Homo sapiens: one gene and its partners. The protein of the gene in region 3 interacts with the protein of the main gene of each other region in a pairwise test. Each region holds a gene or a part of one and is shown on either strand. Other genes may lie near its edges.

What was found.
Region 1: the proteins of FAM168B (region 3) and TCF7L2 interact in binary tests that used the Homo sapiens proteins (3 or more experiments, as listed by UniProt).
Region 2: the proteins of FAM168B (region 3) and UBAP2 interact in binary tests that used the Homo sapiens proteins (3 or more experiments, as listed by UniProt).

What each region holds. Positions count from the first base shown.
Region 1 is NC_000010.11:112,953,169-112,960,276, reverse strand, and holds part of TCF7L2 (transcription factor 7-like 2), read right to left. Parts: intron 1-7,108. UniProt on the Homo sapiens protein: Participates in the Wnt signaling pathway and modulates MYC expression by binding to its promoter in a sequence-specific manner. Acts as a repressor in the absence of CTNNB1, and as activator in its presence.
Region 2 is NC_000009.12:34,038,848-34,045,955, reverse strand, and holds part of UBAP2 (ubiquitin-associated protein 2), read left to right. Parts: intron 1-7,108. UniProt on the Homo sapiens protein: Recruits the ubiquitination machinery to RNA polymerase II for polyubiquitination, removal and degradation, when the transcription-coupled nucleotide excision repair (TC-NER) machinery fails to resolve DNA damage. May promote the degradation of ANXA2.
Region 3 is NC_000002.12:131,048,419-131,055,526, forward strand, and holds part of FAM168B (myelin-associated neurite-outgrowth inhibitor), read right to left. Parts: intron 7,032-7,108; coding exon 6,854-7,031; intron 4,598-6,853; coding exon 4,485-4,597; 3' UTR 4,473-4,484; intron 4,035-4,472; 3' UTR 1-4,034. UniProt on the Homo sapiens protein: Inhibitor of neuronal axonal outgrowth. Acts as a negative regulator of CDC42 and STAT3 and a positive regulator of STMN2. Positive regulator of CDC27.

The DNA of each region.
Region 1 (7,108 bases), on a different chromosome or scaffold from region 3:
TTTCTAATCACTACTGGGCTCTAAATTTGATGTTTCTGATATGCAAAACATCAGAGATACCCAGACATGGAATGGGAAACAGCTTTTTTCAACCACAGGAATCTCCTCCTCAAAGACAATTAAAACAATTGAAATCCTCTGTTGGTTTTTCCAGCACTAAGCTAACTTCTAACATGATGCACATTAATTTTTGATGCCTATTCGTCCTGCTAAATTGGGAAGAGGTGGAACATTTACTTTATTTTCAGTTTTATGAATCACCTGGCTTTCTCTTATCTATATTAAAAAAAAAAACAGATCATTTCCTAGGAGGTGTTAGTTTTTTTGGTCCACTTTCCTCTCTACCCTGTAGCTGCTACCATGAGCCACTTGAAATCTAATTTCCATGTAATTACCTTAAGAAACAAAATACTTTTTTTTAGTATACCTAAGACCTTTTCTTAGGTCATTAGTCATTTGAGCAACCACAGGCCATTATAAGCCCAGCTTCCCCTACCCCACTGCCCCCAGTCCTGTGTTGAGAGCCTTTTACATTTAATGGGAAATAAACTTTTGACCAAGACTTTGGGTGACTGCCTGCCCTTATAAAAAGTACCAAGGGGGGCCTCTGACTTCAAGAGAAAAGGCAAAACCAGCATTGCCTGGTACTTGAGCTTAAACATTCCTGCAGAGATCTAGACACTGAACATTTGTACCATCCCTAAACAATAACTTAACGACAGCATCCCCTTTCACTTCCTGGCATTCTGCCTCAGAAATTCTGCTGCAACAAAATGCATGCCTTTAGACACAAGAACAATCTCTCCTACTGTCTCAATGTTCCATCAAATGTCTATTTACCCTCATTAATTTTTCTTTTCCTCAACCTGAAACCATCAGCTATGAGTCAGAGAACGATCATTAACTTTTACAGCTTCTATACGTATCCACCTACTCACATTTGGGGAAAGAAGTATTGACTTGCAACATTGCCTGAGACCAAAATTCTCTAAGAAGAAAAAAAGGGGAAAAAGTCGCTTCAAGAAAGTTTTATCTGTAGGTCTGCGGGGAAATGCTATGTTCATCGTTTCTCCACTTTGTGCTGCAAAGTCTCGCAAAAAAAAAAAGTTGAGCTTGAACTTCTTTATGGTGATGGGCATTTCTGGGTTGATTTTTGAGAAAAACTAGATGATTTTCTTTCAACGTCAAAACATAATTAAAGCTCTTAAACTGTCTGGGGGAAAAAATAAAGTGAATCAAGTTTCCTGCTCTTGTACAAAACATATTTCTAGCATATAGAAAAACACGTGGGCTGAAGTGCTGAGACATGTTCCTAACACAGCATTTTTCATTAAAAGTTGCTACACTAAAACTCTTAAAATGATGCCCCATCATTACTCCACTTAGCAGTCGCAGTGCTGCAACTCATAACGAATTAATTTGCATTAATGTGGGTTTCATGTGTCCTTCCCTGGGTATGCCATTGTGATTCAGGCTTAATAAAACTGACACGACAACAACATAGTGCCTTTTATTTCACTTTCCAAAACAAACCAACCCACCCAAAGACCCACACAAATCCTCTCAATTTTTTAAGCATTTTACTAATATATTTTAGTACATCATAATTGGCCCAGCACGAAGGAATCTAGTTATCTTCTCAGTAAATATTTATAGCGTCACTCTTTCCCATTCATTCTGCATTTTCTTAGAGAATCTCACTGTAGCCTACATCTGCAATTCATTGACTTTACAATTTACCACATGTTGGGATGGGAGAGGTCTTAGCTCCATTTGAATCACTACACAAATATGCAAGTGATTTATCGGTTTCAAGCTGAAGACTGCAAGAGAGGGACTCCACTTTTCCTGAACATTACTTCTTCTGGCAGACCATGAACAATTACAGTGCGTACTAATTAAGCTCTGTAAATGTGCTGTGCCCTGCTAATGCCTACCAGGCCTCAAATTTATTTTCATGATGCCAAACTTTAGGGAGCAATTTTAACTCCTTCAGGGCTGATGCCACTCCTGGCCATTCCTTCCTCCGTAGACCGACCTGGTTGGGGCTACTGCATGACAAAAAGAATAAAATATAACAGGTCGAATTACTAGCCCGAAATCAGATGTGCCTAAGGAGAAAAAACCTATCTTGGGAAAAGCAAAGAACACCTCGGCTGATAACCCGTTCAAAGATCCCACAGCCCCTTCTTTGTAATGAGCTGTTTAGGGATTCATATCTATCCCTGAGGGCTAGTAAGTTTCTGCATGCCATTGATTAGAAAAGAAAACCTTTCGGCCTGGGTCTTTAAGTTTGGGTTGGATGGAAGGAAGGATCCAGTCAGAAATGAGAGCCATCATCTCTCCTGGCCTGGCAAACACCTTTGAATCTCACTTCCTCCTTATACCGCGTAGTCAGTTTGTAATACACCAGAACAGCCCACTTTTTCAACATAAATTAAAATCAGCAGGACAACTGGCCTTCTCTCTCACACTCCAGTCTCCACCACAGATAATGCCTCACCCTCAGATGCTTACACAGTAACTGATAGGAAACACATCTGTGGCTAGGTAGAACACCCTGGGTAATGAAGGGATCGCAGCCCATCTTTGCTGAGCAAAGCAATATCCCTTTTTAATAGCCCAGCCCAGGGTACTCCCACGCCCCTCCATAAGGAAACTTCCAATCTCCAATTTCAATTCCCCCAAACCCAAATCTTTGTTCTCTTGTATTATACTTTTCTTATCTTTCTTAGGCATTTATTCTGTCTCCTCTGGCTACTTTTCTGTGCCTCCTCCCGCAGATACCAGTACATTTTTCACAAATAAGCAGCCCTCCCATCCCCAGTGTAAACCTGGATTTTTTTTCCCCTCACCTATTATATTCTTTTAGTCAACTCTCTTCACCTCATCTCACTTTTTTAAAAACTCTCACGTTAACTAGTTTAACTAGTGTACTATGTAATGTGTACATTTTCCCTTCCACTCAGGGGAACATCATATAAATTAAAGAGCCGTCTCCCATACCAGGTTTCTTTAAGTATTCCTGGGGAAAATGCACAATATAGGCAATGTAATCTCAAAAAAAAAAAAAAAAAAAAAAAAAAGGTGGGGGTGTTGGGGGGAATTAAGAAAAGAGAAAGAAAGGAAAAAGGGAGAAAAGAAAAGGGAAAAGATGCAAACACCTAGAGCAACTTTGCTTTTGAAAAAGGCATCTGTGCAGAGCCCCCACTGAATTTCCATTCCTGAAAGTGCTCTTTATAAATGTGTATAACAATAGCCTAGAGGAAACGTACAAGTCAGCTGCCAAAGGAGTGGTGGCGTCTGTCTCAGTAAACTCAAGATTGTAGAGGTGGGGGTCAGCGGAGAAGGGAGGGCAGCATTTGCATTAGGATACCACCACCTCCCCCCATCTCATTGCTTATAATTAGTGAGAGAAATCTGAGCTACTGCCAATGTCTGCGGACCTTGAATATTATAAGGCCAACGTGGCGTCAAATATCTTAACATTCATAAGTGTTATGGGCTGTAAATAAAGCCTGTGGATTTATGACCTGGTGGTGCGCTTGCCAGCAAAAAGACTGGGGCACATTTCTTTCAGCAGACCTGTCGAGGTGCGAGTTTGCCTTTGGTTGTAAAATTAACCATTTCCTTCACAAATGTGCTCAATTATAAGTCAGAGTTGAAGATTTACTTACATAGTTGCCAATATTCACTCCCAGAAGAAACTCAGATGCCCACATCACACACCCCTTTGAAAATAAGACCCTCAAGAATTTGGTTCAGCCTCCTTTTCCAAACTTTAAAATGTGTCACCTCAAAAGAATTATAAATGCAGTCAAAGATATTATCTAATGCCACTCACCAAGACTAAAAAGCTTACACTTACTTCCCTGGAAAGTGCTTATTTATTTGGCAACTCCAGCATTTAAAAAAAAAAAAAAAAAAAAAAAGGTAAATCACTCCTTGCCTGAAATCTCCTCCCTTCCCCCAATATAATGTCATCTACTTCCTGTGCAGGAGAGAGCATTTGCTAAATCCAGGTTGTCTCATACTTAACTGCCAATAAACCAACTTCCACATAACTTCCAGACAGCTGGGGGAAAGGTCCTCGGAGTTTTAGTCATGGTCCAGAAACACGCGTCCACACAAAAATTTGCAGCTGTCCTTTCTCTACAGTGCATTTTTAATGTGATTCAGGGGGGCCTGTTGTGAAACATCTGACAAAATGTAAAATCCTCTTAGATACCTTCTAGTTTACCCACTGCACGTGTGTAAGAGAAGTTGCACCAGGATTTCTCCACCGAGAAATCTAGGCACTTTTTGCACACAGCCAGGGGCACCTCGTGGGATGTAAGGAGGCATTCGAAACCTGGAAAGACTTCTACTGTAATCTTTAAAAGCACAGCCTCTGGTGCAACTATTAAAATGCTAGTTTTCTAAAGCAAATATTTTTTTCAATGGCGTGCAGAACTGCAGCGATCCAGCACGGCAAACAGAACAGCATTCTTGATCTGCAAGCCCCTGGAAACCTTCCGGTAACTTTTTCACAGCTTGCTAAGAAACAGAAAGCTGACCAACTTCCAGCAATGACTCTAAATGAAATCCCTATCAGTAAAATTAAAATCAAGGTGAAGAACTCCTAGCAAGAACGAGGATTGTTTTCCTCAAAAAACTCTTTCTCAATCAGACACAGAGGGCATCAGTCAAAGCTCCTTCCCTTAAACAGTCAAAAGTTTCCAAAAACACGTCTTCCAGATAAGCTCGTTAGGCTCCCAAATGCCTGAGTTTGTTTCTGGGATTTCAGAAAGTTTCAATATCAACAAAGTGGAAAGCGCTGGCATATTTAATTTATAATCATTAAAATATGACTTATTGGGTGAATGTTGAGCCTATAATCCATACTGCAGACATTAAACCCCAACCTATAAAGATTAGCATGGAATTAATACGGTTGCATTGAGATTGAAATCTAAACATGTTCGCCATAAATATTTCTGAAGGAGATGAAAAACAATTAGCATAAATACCAAAGAAGGGTAAGAACACCTGTTCTTTTTCAGGGCGATAAGCATTTTATTGTTCTCTATTTAAAATGTAATGACCTGTGTAATTACAGTAATATTACATTGTTATGTAGGGGCTTGGAATGTCACACTTTGAAAAGTGTTGTCAAAACAATCAGGGGTGAGGTGGGGGGGTGGGAGGACAACTGGGAAGGACCACCATTAACCCTTCACACTCCAAGGTCTAAATCTTTTGTATTAGAAAGGATTATGTTGTTTCAGTGAGGAAAAAACGTCCATTTTTCACAAGCCAGAAAGAGAAGTTGCCCGGCTAAATAAAATCCCAATGAATAGGCCCCTCTCGGTTTCCTTTAAATGCTGGATTCCAAGTTCAAAAATGAATTCAAGATGCAGCTTATTTATCTGTTCAACCTAGTAGCAAAGAGCTCGGTTGAAAAGCAAATAACTTTGGATAAGAGAAGATGCAAGGGCTCGAATAATCAAGTCCTTAAAAAGAAATTTCAAACCTAACTGGAATTTCAACCACCATATTCCTATTTCCACTTTGCCAGGAGGGAAAAAGAAATGTAAAACTACTTTTTCCAATCAACTTTAATAGGTTACAGTATTCTTATCTTTAATATACAAATGTTACCACAGTTCTAATATTTGCAGTTCTAACACTTCCCATCTACTTAACTAGACCTCTCCTTAATGCAGTTTTGTATCTGAATCTGTCTTTTTAAAAGCCATTCCTATTACTGAATCAAAGACTAAATTAATATTATGCAGAAATCTTTGTCATTTTAAAATAAAATTATTACTATCAAGCTTTATGGTGTCTTCAGCAATTAAAGCATTATTCTTGAGATAATGTATTATTCATCATAAGCCGATTTAATGATACTCTCTAATTCTTTACATTCTTAAATAAAAAAGCAGAAATCAGGGTTCCAGAGAGTTTGCTTTTTAAAGGATGCAGCTGCTTACAGGTACACCATAAGTAACAGAAAATGTAGCAAAAATCACCGCCACCAAGGAGCAAAGGGAAAATAATAAAGCATACAGCGAAATTTGTCTTTACACCTTGCCATTAAAAACACACCCTATAAAACACTAAGGATTTCAGAAGAGTATGGGAAGCCCGCTATCTTGCCTATGCATTCCTCCATTCCTCCCGCAGCTGTATCAAATCTGGATTGCAAGCTGGCCTTCTGATTGAAGACGTCAGGAATGACACACAACAGCCTACCATCCTCATTTCCACTGCTCTGCTGACCAGCCTAAATAAATAACTTTAATTTTGGAGCACATAATCTAACCCAGGTAACAGGGAGGAAGGACGAAGGGGCAGTGTACACAAAGATGTCTGCTGGTGTTTGACATGTAAGTACTAAAACTGCCTACTGAGTTCAGAAATGTGTTCTGAGACTCAATCTGATGTCACAGCACCAGGCCACCCGCTATGTCCACAATTAAAATAACTAGACGCCGTCTATTCCTATAATGCCCACAAAAGGGACCGATCATTGGGAGCCTTCCTTTTCTCACCGGGAAATCATTTATTTGCCTTTAGCAATTTCCCTGTTTGCTAATTACAAGACAACACAACTGCTCAAGTTTGAGAAGGGATGGCAAGATTGCCAGTATCAGACAGCGAGTTTAAAAAGAGTCAAGAAAGCTAGCAAGCCCGCCATCAAAGCTCAATATTCAGATGGTTAAGTGGATTTTAAAATAATACCAGGGAGGTTTCCATCGGAAGGGGGAGGGGAGGAGAGGCAGAAATTCTCAGGGATTCTTTGGAATGTTGCTTGGTCCGGTTTATTGGTAGGCGAACACTGCGATTCTGAGCCGAACGGTCCCGTTTAAGATGCCCCACAAGCTCCCAAGAAAAATACAAAGTAAGCGAACTGTGCTTCCCCTACAGCTGCAAGCCCAGAGCGCGGCCCCTGCAGCCTGGTGGAACTGGCCCTGGAGAAGGGGGTTGAGCCGAACCGCTCTCCCAGCTTCCCAAGCATGTCTGGGCGCCGGGCAGGGGGGGAATAATTATTTCTCTTCCCTAGCCATAAAAAAAATGACCGGTCTAGCATGCCCTTGCCATTTTGCCAGGGCCCAAAAAAGCA
Region 2 (7,108 bases), on a different chromosome or scaffold from region 3:
AGCCGTTTTTTCCAAAGAGTGGAGATACAACCTGAAGGAAGGCAAAGAGAGGGAGGACATGTAGGGAATATCACCATGTAATCTTTGTGGTAGATTTTGAAGTAATTTTGCCCCAACTATCAAGTATTTAGGAATAGGATCCTTTTTTTACTAACTCAAAGAATCAAATTTATCAGATTAGTTTTTACAATTTTAATGTAAACCACTTATGCTGATATTTCCTGCTGAGTTTACTTGACATTTTTTAAGTTTCTCAAAGATGCTCCTTAAAAATTTTCTTTTGTGACTGGGCACTGTGGCTCATGTCTGTAATCCCAGCACTTTGGGAGGCGGAGGCGGGCGGGTCACGAGGTCGGGAGTTCGAGACTAACCTAACCAACATGGTGAAACCCCGTCTCTACTAAAAATACAAAAATGAGCCTGGTGTGGTGGCGCGTGCCTGTAGTCCCAGCTGCTCCAGAGGCTGAGGCGGTAGAATTGCTTGAACCTGGGAGGTGGAGGTTGCTGTGAGCCATGTGCCATTGGACTTCATCCAGCCTGGATGGAGCAAGACTCCGTCTCAAAAAAAAATTTTTTTTTTAATTTTTATTTTTTTCTACCCTTTTTTTTTTTTGAAGACAGTCTCACTGTTGCCCAAATTGGAGTGCAGTGGTGCAATCTCGGCTCACTTCAAGCTCCGCCTTCTGGGTTCATGCCATTTTCCTGCCTCAGCCTCCCGAGTACCTGGGACTACTGGCGCCTGCCGCCACGCCCGGCTAATTTTTTGTATTTTTATTAGAGACGGGGTTTCACAGTGTTAGCCAGATGGTCTTGATCTCCTAACCTCGTGATCCGCCCGCCTCGGCCTCCCAAAGTGCTGGGATTACAGGGGTGAGCCACGGCGCCCAGCCTTTTTTTACCCGTTTGTAAACAATGTTTGATAAGTTTCCATTTTTTGATAACTAATTTTCATGCTGGACATAGCATAATTGAATTGGAATCCAGTTAACTATTTGGATTTGAAGTATGAAATAGGGCTCACATTAAGGAGTAGAGTAGGTGTTTTATTTAAGACTAGGTAATACTCTTCATTTATTTATTTATTTATTTACAGATGGAGTCTCGCTCTGTCACCCAGGTTGGAGTGCAGTGGTACGATCTTCGCCCACTGCAACCTCTGCCCACCGGGTTCAAGTGATGCTCCTGCCTCAGCCTCCTGAGTAGCTGGGGTTACAGGCGCCTGCCAACACACTTGGCTAATTTTTGTAATTTTAGTAGAGATGGGATTTCACCATGTTGGCCATATTGGTCTTGGAACTCCTGACCTCAGGTGATCCACCTGCCTTGGCCTCCCAAAGTGCTGGGATTACTTGCGTGAGCCACCACACCTGGCTTCTTCTTTTATTTTTATTTTCTTGAGACAGTCTTTCTCTGTCGCCCAGGCTGGAGTGCTGTGGTGCCTTGGCTCACTGTAACCTCTGCCTCCCTGGCTTAAGTGATTCTTGTGCCTCAACTTCCCAAGCAGCTGGGACTACAGGCATGCATCACCACGCCCAGCTAATTTTTTTTTTTTTTCGAGACAGAGTCTTGCTCTCTTGCCCAGGCTGGAGTGCAGTGGCGCTATCTCGGCTCACTGCAAACTCCGCCTCCCAGGTTCACGCCATTCTCCTGCCTCAGCCTCCCGAGTAGCTGGGACTACAGGCGTGTGCTGTCAAGCCTGGCTAATTTTTTGTATTTTTAGTAGAGACAAGGTTTCACCGTGTTAGCCAGGATGGTCTTGATCTCCTGACCTCGTGTGTGATCTGCCCGCCTCGGCCTCCCAAAGTGCTGGGATTACAGGCGTGAGTCACCGCGCCCGGCTAATTTTTTTTTTTTTTTTTTTTTTTGAGGTGGAGTTTCATTCTGTCACCCAGGCCAGAGTGCAGTGGTGTGATCTCTGTTCACTGCAATCTCCGCCTACTGGGTTCAAGCGATTAGCCTGCCACCGTGCTCTGATAATTTTCGTATTTTTTGTAGAGACAGGATTTTGTCATTTTGGCCATGCTGGTTTTGAACTCCTGACCTCAGGTGATCCACCTGCTTCGGCCTCCCAAAGTGCTGAGATTACAGTTGTGGACCACTGTGCCTGGCCTTTTTTTTCCCCCTGAAACATGGAGTATATGTTTAAAAAAAAAAAAAGTTGGAGCCTGGCTCCATGGCTCCTGCGTGTAATTCCAACGCTTTGGGAGGCTGAGGTGGAAGGATTTCTTGAGCAGGAGTTCGAGACCAGCGTGGGCAATATAGTGAGACCCTGTCTCTATAAAAAAAATGTAAAAATTAACTGGGCATGATTGCATGTACCCAGAGTCCCATCTACTTGTGAGGCTGAGGTGGGAGGATTGCTTGAGGCCACAGTGAGCTATGATTGTGCCATTGCACTCCAGCTTGGGTGACAGAGTGAGACCCTATCTCCATAAATAATAGGATCATACTTTGCATACTTGCTGATTTTTATTGAAAAATACAGCATAGTTTGGGTGTGGTGGCTCATGCCTGTAATCCCAGCACTTTGGGAGGCCGAGGCAGGTGAATCACTTGAGCCCAGGAGTTGGAGAGCAGCTTAGACAACGTGGCAAAACCCTGTCTTTACTAAAAATACAAAAATTAGCTGGGCATGGTGTGCTTGTAGTCCCAGCTACTCAGGAGGCTGAGGTTGGAGGATTGCTTAAGCCTGGGTGGTTGAGACTGCAGTGGGCTGTGATTGTGCCACTGCACTTCAGCCTGGGTGACAGACCCTGTCTCAGAAGAAAAACCCAAAAAACAGCATACATACCGTAGATGATATATGAGGCATAAAAACATGTAGAGTTGTCATTGTATAACGTAGAAGGTGGTTGGGGGTAAACACATATGTAGAGTTGTTTTTTTTGGAGACAGGGTCTTGCTTTGTCGCCCAGGATGGAGTGTCTTGGCATGATCATGGCTCACTGCAGCCTCTATCTCCCAGGATTAAGGCATCCTCCCACCTCAGCCTCCTGAGTAGCTTGGACCACAGGGATGCATCACCATGCTCAGCTAATTTTTCTTTTTGTAGAGAGGAGTCTTGCTATGTTGCCCAGGCTGGTCTCTTAGGCTAAAGTGATCCTCCTGCCTTGGCCTACTAAAGTGCTGAGATTACAGGTGTGAGCTTAATGCCTGGCCCCATATGTAAAATTAAAAAAAAAAAGTAAAATGAACAACCAAGAAATAGGACATTACTGCTACCTGGAAGTCTCCTGTGTATGCCAGCTCCCAAGGCATTTCTTTTCGCTTTCCTTGAGGTAACCATTACCCTACATTATAGGTTTACTATTCCTTTGTGTTGTTGTTTTAAAATAGAGACAAGGTCTAGCTATGTTGCCCAGGGTGGTCTTGAACTCCTGGACTCAAGTGATCCTCCTGCTTGGCCTCCCAGAGTCCTGGGATTATAGGTATGAGTCACTCTGCAGGTTCTACTGTTCCTTTTTTTTTTTTTTTTTTTGAGACGGAGTCTTGCACTATCGCCTGGGCTGAAGTGTAGTGGCCCGATCTCAGCTCACTGCAACCTCCACCTCCCAAGTTCAAGCGAATCTCCAGCCTCCATCTCCCGAGTAGCTCGGATTATAGGTGCCCGCCACCACGCCTGGCTAATTTTTTGTATTTTTGGTAGAGATGGGGTTTCACTGTGTTGGCCAGGCTGGTCTCAAACTCCTGACCTCATGATCCGCCCACCTGAGCTCCCAAAGTGCTGGGATTACAGGCATGAGCCACCACCCCAGCCTACTGTTACTTTTTTACAATAATTTTACCTTATATGTATATCCGTAAGCAACATATGGTTTAATAGTGCCCATTTTCAGTCTTATTCTCAATGTAAGAATTGTATGATTCTTCTGATGCTTGATTCTTTCACTCTTACATGCTTGAGATTTATCCATGTTGATTTCTTTTTTTTGAGATAGGGTCTCAGTCTGTTGCTCAGGCTGGAGTGCAGTGGCTCGATCCTGGCTCACTGCAACATTCACCTCCCGGGTTCAAGCGATTCTCCTTCCTCAGCCTCCCAAATAGCTGGGACTACAGGTGCCCGCCACCATGCCTGGCTAATTTTTGTATTTTTTGGTAGAGACGGGGTTTCCTTGTGTTAGCCAGGCTGGTCTCGAACTCCTGACCTCAGGTGATCTGCCTGCTTCGGCCTCCCAAAGTTCTGGTATTACAGGCATGAGCCACTGCACCCAGCCCCCATGTAGATTTCTTTTTTCTTTGTTTTGTTTTATAAGACGGAGTCTTGCTCTTTTGCCCAGGCTGGAATGCCAGTGGCACGATCTCGGCTTCTCAGCTCACTGCAGCCTCTGCCTCCTTGGTTCAAGCAATTCTCCTGCCTCGGCCTCCCGAGTAGCTGGGATTACAGACACCTGCCACCATGCTCAGCTAATTTTTGTATTCTTAGTAGAGACGGGGTTTCACCATGTTGGCCAGGCTGGTCATGGACTCTTGTTTGTTTTTTTTTTTTTTTTTGAGATGGAGTTTGCTCTTGTTGCCCAGGCTAGAGTGCAATGGTGCGATCTTGGCTCACTGCAACCTCTGCCTCCTGGGTTCAAGCAATTCTCCTGCCTCAGCCTCCCAAGTAGCTGGGATTACAGGCAGGCACCACCATGCCTGGCTAATTTTTTTTTTTTTTTTTGCATTTTTAGTAGAGCTGTGGGTTCACTATGTTGGGCAGGCTGGTCTCGAACTCCTGACCTCCAGCGATCTGCCCACCTCGGCCTCCCAAAGTGCCGGGATTACAGGTGTTAGCCATCGTGCCCGGCCCGTTGATTTCTTATAGTAGTATGAGGTTACATTGTAAGGATGTGCCATATGTTGTCTATTTCATTGTTGATGGATATTTGTCTCATTTCCAGTTTTTTGAGATTACCAATTTTACTTGTCCTCATGTGGACATTTGCCACCCTGCCCACAACAAACAAAGTCCATTTTCTCAAGACTACATAACTGAGAGTGGAATTTTTGGTTTGTATGTAGGGTATGTGTAACTTTTACTAAGTAATGCTAAAGTGTTTTCCACATGTTGCACAGTTGTTCTCAGGCTTGTCAGCTGAACCACAGAACACAGAAAGTTGAGTTACTATTTTCTCAAATCTGTCAAGGATGGTACATAATGAATTTCATTCTAGGTGTCTGGAAAAAGTTCAGCTTATACACAGAGTGGATGCCCTAAGAATTGGGAATTCATTCTCAAAGACTGAGTGGTTTAAGAGTTCTACATCCTTGCCAACATTTTATGTTGCCTTTTTAGTTTTAGCCAATTGTAGTGGGATGTTCTAGATATATCTTTCATGAACGCCACATAGCTGGATTTTGCTTTGTTAAGTTAGCAACTTGCTAACTTCTTTTTAATTAATTAGAGTGTATCGCTATGTTGGCTGGGCTGGTCGTGAACTCCTGGGCTCAAGTGATCTTCCCACCTCACCCGCACAAAGTGCTGGGATTGTAGGAGTGAGCCATCAGCTAACCTCTTTAACTAGAGCATGGAGACCATTCATATCTGTTGTAATTACAGATATTTTGGATATATGTCTGCCATTATATTTAGTCTTCTAGTTGGCTGGCCTGTGTGTTTGTTTTCTGTCCCTTTTTTTTTTTTTTTTTTTTTTTTGAGACAGAGTCTCATTCTGTCACCCAGGCTGGAGTGCAATGGCGTGGGCTCGGCTCACTGCAACCTCCGCCTCCCGAGTTTAAGGGATTCTTCTGCCCCAGCCTCCCTAGTAGCTGGGACTACAGGCACGTGCCACCACACCTGGCTAATTTTTTTTTTTTTTTGAGACGGAGTCTAGCCCTTGTCGCCCAGGCTAGTGTGCAATGGCGTGATCTTGGCTCAACGCAACCTCCGCCTCCTGGGTTCAAGTGATTCTCCTGCCTCAGCCTCCCAAGTAGCTGGGATTACAGGCATGTGCCACCATGCCCCCGGCTAATTTTGTACTTTTAGTAGAGTCGGGGTTTCTCCATGTTCATCAGGCTGGTCTTGAACTCCCGACCTCAGGTGATCGCCCGCCTCGGCCTCCCAAAGTGCTGGGATTACAGACGTGAGCCACCGTGTGCGGCTTGTATTTTTTTTTTTTTTTTTTTTTTTTTAGTATTTATTGATCATTCTTGGGTGTTTCTCGCAGAGGGGGATTTGGCAGGGTCATAGGACAATAGTGGAGGGAAGGTCAGCAGATAAACAAGTGAACAAGGGTCTCTGGTTTTCCTAGGCAGAGGTCCCTGCGGCCTTCTGCAGTGTTTGTGTCCCTGGGTACTTGAGATTAGGGAGTGGTGATGACTCTTAACTGCCTTCAAGCATCTGTTTAACAAAGCACATCTTGCACCGCCCTTTATCCATTTAACCCTGAGTGGACACAGCACATGTTTCAGAGAGCACGGGGTTGGGGGTAAGGTTATAGATTAACAGCATCCCAAGGCAGAAGAATTTTTCTTAGTACAGAACAAAATGGAGTCTCCTATGTCTACTTCTTTCTACACAAACACAGCAACAATCTGATTTCTCTATCTTTTCCCCACATTTCCCCCTTTTCTATTCGACAAAACCGCCATCGTCATCATGGCCCGTTCTCAATGAGCAGTTGGGTACACCTCCCAGATGAGGTGGCGGCCGGGCAGAGGGGCTCCTCACTTCCCAGAAGGGGTGGCCGGGCAGAGGCGCCCCCCCCACCTCTCGGACGGGGCGGCGGCCAGGCGGAGGCGCCCCCCAACTCCCCAACGGGGCGGCTGGCCGGGCGGGGGCTGCCCCCCACCTCCCTCCCGGAAGGGGCGGCTGGCTGGGCGGAGGCTGCCCCCCACCTCCCAGACGGGCCGGCTGCCGGGCGGAGACGCTCCTCACTTCCCAGACGGGGTGGCTGCCGGGCGGAGGGGCTCCTCACTTCCCAGACGGGGCGGCTGCTGGGCGGAGGGGCTCCTCACTTCTCAGACGGGTCGGCCGGGCAGAGACGCTCCTCAACTCCCAGACGGGGTCGCGGTCGGGCAGAGGCGCTCCTCACATCCCAGATGGGGTGGCGGGGCAGAGGCGCTCCCCACATCCCAGACGGGGTGGCGGGGCAGAGGCGCTCCCCACATCTCAGACGATGGGCGGCCGGGC
Region 3 (7,108 bases):
CTACACAGACGCCGCTCATCCTCTGTCTCCCCTTCCCAAGTGACTTCACTTCAGTCCTGTGGACCAAGATAAGGCTATCCCCACAGGCTCTCTCTTCTTCAAATAATGAGTAGGAAAAAGAGACAAACTTTCTGAAACATGCAGTTTCCGACCCAAATAGGCCACATACCCCAACTTCTGTGTTACTTGGTCAGTTGAGCCCCTGGAGCCCTCAGGACCTACTGATAAAGCATGTCCTCTGCAGTATACTCAAGAGTCTGCTGCCCTTCAGAAAGCCAGAGGGAACACTCACAAATGCAGAGGTACTAGAGGGGAGAAATACGTGCTCTGCCTTCCCCCAGGCCAACCACACTCTGCTTTAGAGACCCTCTCAGAAAGCACCAGAGAGGAGGACCAGACGCTGCCACCCACCTCAAGCCACACCCCTGCCACCTGCTGCTGCGCCCAATGGAGGTCCTGTCCTGTCCGGGCAACAGCCAAACTGGCGACAATGGACACATCCAACAGTCAGCTGTCGGATAAGGTGAAGGTGGCCCAACTGCTCAGAGTAACACTGTTCTCAAATGTTTAAAAAGGACAGGTGAAGTCTGGGTCTCCTTTTTTAAAGCAGACACCAATACTTACATAACTAGTACATGTTGGCCTTTCACCAGCACTCACTGGCACTCACAGGTGCCTTACATACCTTACGGGGGCCAACACTGACAGGTATTAGTACGTCGCAAGTTGCTGTAATAATGTATTTCCTCTCGTTACTGTTGTGTCCCCCAAGACACATGCAAATTATTTCCTAGACCTCATTCATCACAGCCAGATGATGCCACCAGAAAGAGCAAGGTACTGTATGCCCAGCTGGGGAAGGGCAAGACACTCACTGACCAGGTGCCCACCCCAAGGCTCAGGACCACCCCCATTGCCTGTGAACACATTTGCATAGCACTCAAGAAGGTTTCCCAGAATAGCGACAGGTAGGCCTACAAACCACACCAAGAAGAACGTTCTTAACAGATGGCTCACGAGAGACATAAAAGGTTCTGGAAGTGCCTTCAGGCCCATTACCATGACTGGCCCTGACTCTGGCCCTCACAGAGCGGCAAGTTCATGGGTCACTGGCTCACACTAAATGCTCAGCCGCCAGCACAGATCCAAACAAGACCTCCATGAGCAGAGAAACTGCAGCGGCTGAACACACTCCCCAAGCCTCAGGGGAGAAGGTGTAGAACAAATATTTTTTAAATAGCCATCATGATGTCCATGTTTACATGAACTAGGTCCTTTGCTTACCTGCTGTCTCAACTTCTAAAAGAATAGTAATTCAGCTGAAGGACTCCCAAATTAGGAATGTCAAACACACAAAAAGCAAATTTCTCAGAATGCTCCACCATATGCTTCGGGACAAATTATGAAGCTTTGTAACAGAATTTTGACCCAAGTTCTATTTCTTAATTGACTTTAATTTTACTAGAAGCGAATGTTGATAAAATTACAACCTATGACAGTTTTGTGACTATTTCCTAAGTCCAGATTCTTACCTGATATCTACCTTTCGTATCTGACAGCTGACGTCCTAAAAATTTCAAAGTCAGAAAGATTTCTGCACGGATGTGCAATGCAAACTTATTTCATAAAGCCTCTCAACTTCATAAAAGGGAAAAAAGGTTAAGTTACAGGGAGGAAGAAAAGTGTTTATGAAGCTGATGTAAATGGCGTGTGGGGGGTGCAGCCCACTCTTTAAAACACCATCCTGTGTGTGCCAAGTACCAAGCAAGCCTGAAGAGATGCCTGTAACTTCTAACCTCCTCCTGAACCCCAAGACTCCAGCCCTCACAGGAGTTGTACATGTATGTTTCCATTTTGTTGTGTGGGGCTTTTTAAAAGCATACACTAACATTGTGAGTATTTTATCCTAATCTATTAGCACTCAATTGGGAAAAAAGACTTCTCTGCTACTTGGTCAGCTGAACCCCTGGAACCGTTAGAACCTACTAATCCTGCCAACCATCCACTAAACAGATGGAATTACCAACAGAGACTTGAAGAAAGGGGCACAAACTGTGTGCCTGCGGTAAATGTCTGCCCCCACACATAGACACTAAGATGGATTAAGTGCTCATGAAGCAATTTAAAGTACTTATCAGTAAACATTCTATGTTAATAGACATCAGGAATAAAGAATCTGCTGTTTACAATGATCCATGCAAAAATATTCCTAAACTTCTTATAAAATAAGATGTGAAAAAGAAAATTATAAGAAGTACTTACTATAAAAAATAAGGTTACCAAAGGCTCAGTGGTCAGGTGTCCCCCCACCAACCAACTGGGGCAGAATGCTAGTGGGCATCCTCACTGGGCGCCAGTGCCCTGACCCAGCTACCAGCAAATGAAGAGGAGCAGAGCCCCCTCCCCACCAGAGCCCACAGCACTCAAACCACCACTGCACTGGGAAGAAGACGCACGCTCCTGCCCTAGAGGCCGCTGAAAGGGACCCAGGCCTTACATCCCCCACCCCCACTCTGACCCTCACTGAGAACCGACATGCACTCTCATGGATACAGGACGGGCATATTTTGGGGGCGGGGTGGAGGGAAGCCTTTTCATTTCTTATGTACAAGATTCAGATCCTAAACTCAAATTCCTCTCCCACAATAAACCCTGCCAGCAAACGCACTCCAGCACTGCCTGGCCCTCTCTGCTGTCTGTGCTTGCTTTGTGCCAAGTGCCCTCAGCTGCAAAAGAGATGGCAGGAGAGGCTCGCAGACAACAGACACTGGCCTCCCCCTCGCCCCATCTCTAAGCGTCCCCTCCAGCCGGCCTCAGCAGACAAGTCACCACCATCAGGTGGGTGATCCCAGAAGCAGCTACAGGTTTCTACATTTCCAGACATATCCACGGCCCTGCCTTTCTACAAGAAATTGGAGGAATTTTAAATAAAGTTTTGTTCCCTTTTAACTCATTCTTAAATATACCACTTTCTTCATAACATACAGCTGAAACCTTTGCCCTTCTTTGTTGGGGAAAAACAGCAATGCCTACCTGTTTTCAGCTGATTCAAACATTTCTCCAGGAAAAAAAAAAAAAAAGGAATGATTTTCTAAGCTAAATAAAGCAGAGGACAATACCTCCTGCAAGCATGGCTGTTTCTCTTTCACATTTCTTCCATCCCAGGAAAATAATTTAGTTTTACATAGGACTTTTCCAATAAAGACATATAAAAACATCATCTCTCTAAGAGAACTGTAATGAAAATTTAGATAGCAGAGAAACTGCTTTGCTGACACATAAACCACCCCCCTCGCCCCAAATTTCACTGGCCACACTACCATAATCTTTCATGATGAGCTTTAAGCATGTCCCTGTTCCACTGACTCCACCAAGCCTAAACTCAAAGGGATGTCCATGAACCAGCTGCACCCAAGCAGCTGTGGCTTCCCTACTCTCTCCCAAACCTCGCAACTCCCTCCCAGGACAGTCAGTGCCAAAGAAACAGGTCGCTGAAAACTAAAATGTCCACATCCCTAACTGGCAACCCACATCAACCCCAAAAGGTTGAAGAATCATCTAAGATATTTCAGATGCTCTATGAAGAAATTCACTTTAACACTTATAACTGTAAGACTTTGCATACATTACAACAGTGCATTAGTGATACAAGTTGTAAAATACGTTTCCATTCCTTTGGATTTTGCATATGATGGTTTTGCATCAGTCACTGCAGGTAGATTGAGCAAGCTTTTTGTGTTTGTTTTTTTAAACATGCATTCAACTAGATATGATTCAGAATAGATTAATACTCCCTTTTTATCATTACAGTTAGCTAAAAAATTGCCAGGCAGTCCACAAAACAGAATTTGCTTTAAGACCAACCCACAGAGTCAGCTGGAGACTAACGGCGCTGGGGCCTGCTGGGCCGGGATATAGTCGTGTTTAGCTAAGTGTCGAGAGCATTAAGAAGAAAGTCCTGGTTGGAGGCGCAAGGCCTGCAGCACCAGCTGTGGAATCCCCAATAATGTGACTGCACAGCTCCGTCCTCAAACCTGCAGAAAGGAAGACAGACACTCAGTCACACAGAGCTCTTCCGGCACCGCTATTCCAAAATCTCAAGTAGGATGAGGCCCAGCAGGGTCGGAAAGGGCAGCAATGGGCAAAACTGCTGGACCTGGTTCTCACTTCCTTCCTAGAGACCCCCAATTGCAACTGGAGCCCTATTTCCTGTAGCAGGCAGGTGGGGGGTTAGAGCACATTCCAGGCAAGGCTCAAGATGGACAGTGTCAACAGTAGGTATTCAATGGTTCCTTCCTTCCTTCTACTCTGTAATGTCTCAATAAAAACAAAAAATTTAAACACTACATTGCCTCTGGATCCAGGGTCAGGCACACTTTCCTCGTTAGTGCTTAAATATGTGGTAAATTTGCCACTGTCCCATGGAAATGCCCTTTCATCAAAGGCTAGCCCAGCCTTCCCTGGTCACTTACATTTGCAGGTGATCACCACTGAGGGGGCACATAGCTGTAAGTGGGCGTTCCTGGGGCCCGGTACGTGGGCACAGTGACCGGGTGGGGGGCGACAGGAGTTGGGGAGTGAGCAGTCAGCAGGGTACCTGGAAGAAAGAGCAGCACATGACATGAGGCTGACCTCCTGCACAGCTCCACACTGCCTGATACGCACACAAGCCTGGCCTCTTTGCAAGGAGGAGGGTATACAGGAAGAGGGATAGTCTTGACCCAGATACTGTCAGAACTCTGATTAGATAATCCCCCACACCCAAAAGTTGTCTCCACACAGCAAGCTCCACAGACAATATGTTCGTAAAAGCCTTTTGTGTGTCCCCTTCATAAAGCACACCCAATAATTTTTATAGGTCAGATGATAAACAAATGAGTATGCTTCAGCCTTAACAAGGAAGGAGATTCTGACACATGCTACAATATAGATGAACCTTAAGAACATAATTCTGAAAGAAAGAAGCCAGTCACTAAAAGACAAATACTTAATGATTCCACTTAGATGAAGTACCTGGAGTAGTCAAATTCAGAGACAGAAAGAAAGTAGAACAGGGAATTAGCGTTAATGAGTACAGGAGTTCAGATTTGCAGGATAAAGACGTTCTGGAGCTCTGTTTCACAACAATGTGAATATACTTAACACTACTGAACCGTACTTAAAAAGGGTTAAGATGGGCTGGGCACAGGGGCTCATGTCTGTAATCCCAACACTCTGGGAGGCTGGGGTGGGAGGATAGCTTAAGTTCAGGAGCTTGAGATGCGCCTGGGCAACATAGTGAGATCCCAGCTCTACAAAAAGTTTTAAAATTAGCCAGGTGTGGTAGCATACTTATAGTCCCAGCTACTCAGGAAGCTAAGGTGGGAGGATGGCTTGAGCCCATGAGTTCCAGACTACAGTGAACTGTGATCGCACCACTGCACTCAAGCCTGGGCAAAAGGGCAAGACCCTGTCTCAACAAAAAAAAGTTAAGATGGTAAAAACAAATAAATAAAAAACAAGAGGCTGGCAACAGTGACTCACGCCTGTAAGCCCAGCACTCTGGGAGGCCGAGGCAGGTGGATCACCTGAGGTCAGGAGTTCGAGACCAGCCTGGCCAACATGGTGAAATCCCATCTCTACCAAAAGGTACAAAAAAATATTAGGCAGGCATGGTGGCAGGCGCCTGTAGTCCCAGCTACTGGGAAGGATGAGGTGGGAAAATCACTTGAACCTAGGAGGCAGAGGTTGCAGTAAGCTGAGATCACACCACTGCACTCCATCTTGGCTGACAGGATGAGACCCTGTCTTAAAAAAAAATATTAAAAATTTTAAAATTAAAAAAAAAAAAAAGAAATGAGGATTCTAAACTACATGAGCTTCTGAGTTCTTTAAGAGAAATCTATTTTTCCTACAACTGCAGAAACTCAACAACTACTTGAGTCCCTTTATGGACCAGCACCACCTCCAACACAGTGGCACCCAACCTGGTGCCTGCTGCCCTCCCTCCCTGTGCCTCAAACCAGCAGTTTCTGTCTATGCCCAGTTTCCTGTTCCTTGACAGATAAGTATGGGGAAAACCAAATCAGAGTCTACATTGAAGCACACATAATAACCCGGAATGCTTTTCTCTCTGGCATAATTTCCTTACACTGAAGTCAAGTCCAGAAAAACAAGGAGGGAACAGTACGCTTTTGTGTGGGCATGACCTAAAGGTGGTCATATTGACCCAGAGACCAGGAGGTGAATCCACATGGGTGGTCATACAGATTGGGTGGTCACCCAATCCCTAGACATCAGATCAAACCCCCAGGGCTTCCGCGGAGATGTGCCCATCCCAGCCAGGGGCCTCATCTTTCCATGGTTTATTTTCCTTAGAGGAGGCCTTGCAAAGTAAAGTACGGTAGATGAATGCCAAAGGATTTCTACAGGCAGCTGTTTCTTCTATCAACGCAAGACCAGCTCTCCTAGATGCATGAAAACATCCCGATGAAGACAACTGACCTGCAAAGACAAGCTCCCCTCAAGGGAAAGGAAGAAGGCCAGAGCAACCCCGGTACACAAAGTGTCCTCCTTCTACTCAAGTCTTACATGGTCATAGGGGGTGGGAGGAGAGGGGGCACATCCTGCATTGCCAAATGGCTCAGTTCACCAACAAAGCGAGTCCATCAGATTCAGAGAGGCCTCCACAAGGGGTCACTCAGGTAGGCAAAATAAAAGATAACCTGCTGTTTCTTCCCCAAAGAATTTTCTGTCCTTCCACACAACTACAGCTATGAAAACCTAGAGCCAAGGGTCAGAGGATTCGTGAGCTCTCCCCTCCCCCAGCTCTAGGGTACACCATAGGACAGACACCGCAGGAACGAGGACTTACCTGCTGACATGGCCATGGTGGTCCCAGCCACCATGCCCATGGTGACCCCGTTGCCTCTAGGAGGGGGGATGGGAGCAGGGTACACCGTTGCAGGCATGCCGTTGGGCTGCACCACCGTGGTGTGGTGGATGACGTGAGGAGGTGCTGCATACAGCGGCTGTGTGTAGTACGTGCCTTGCTGTGGGGAGAAGAGAGACAACTGACACAGGGTCCCAGGGCCAAAGGATGAACGCCCAGGTGGTATCACCCCTTCCC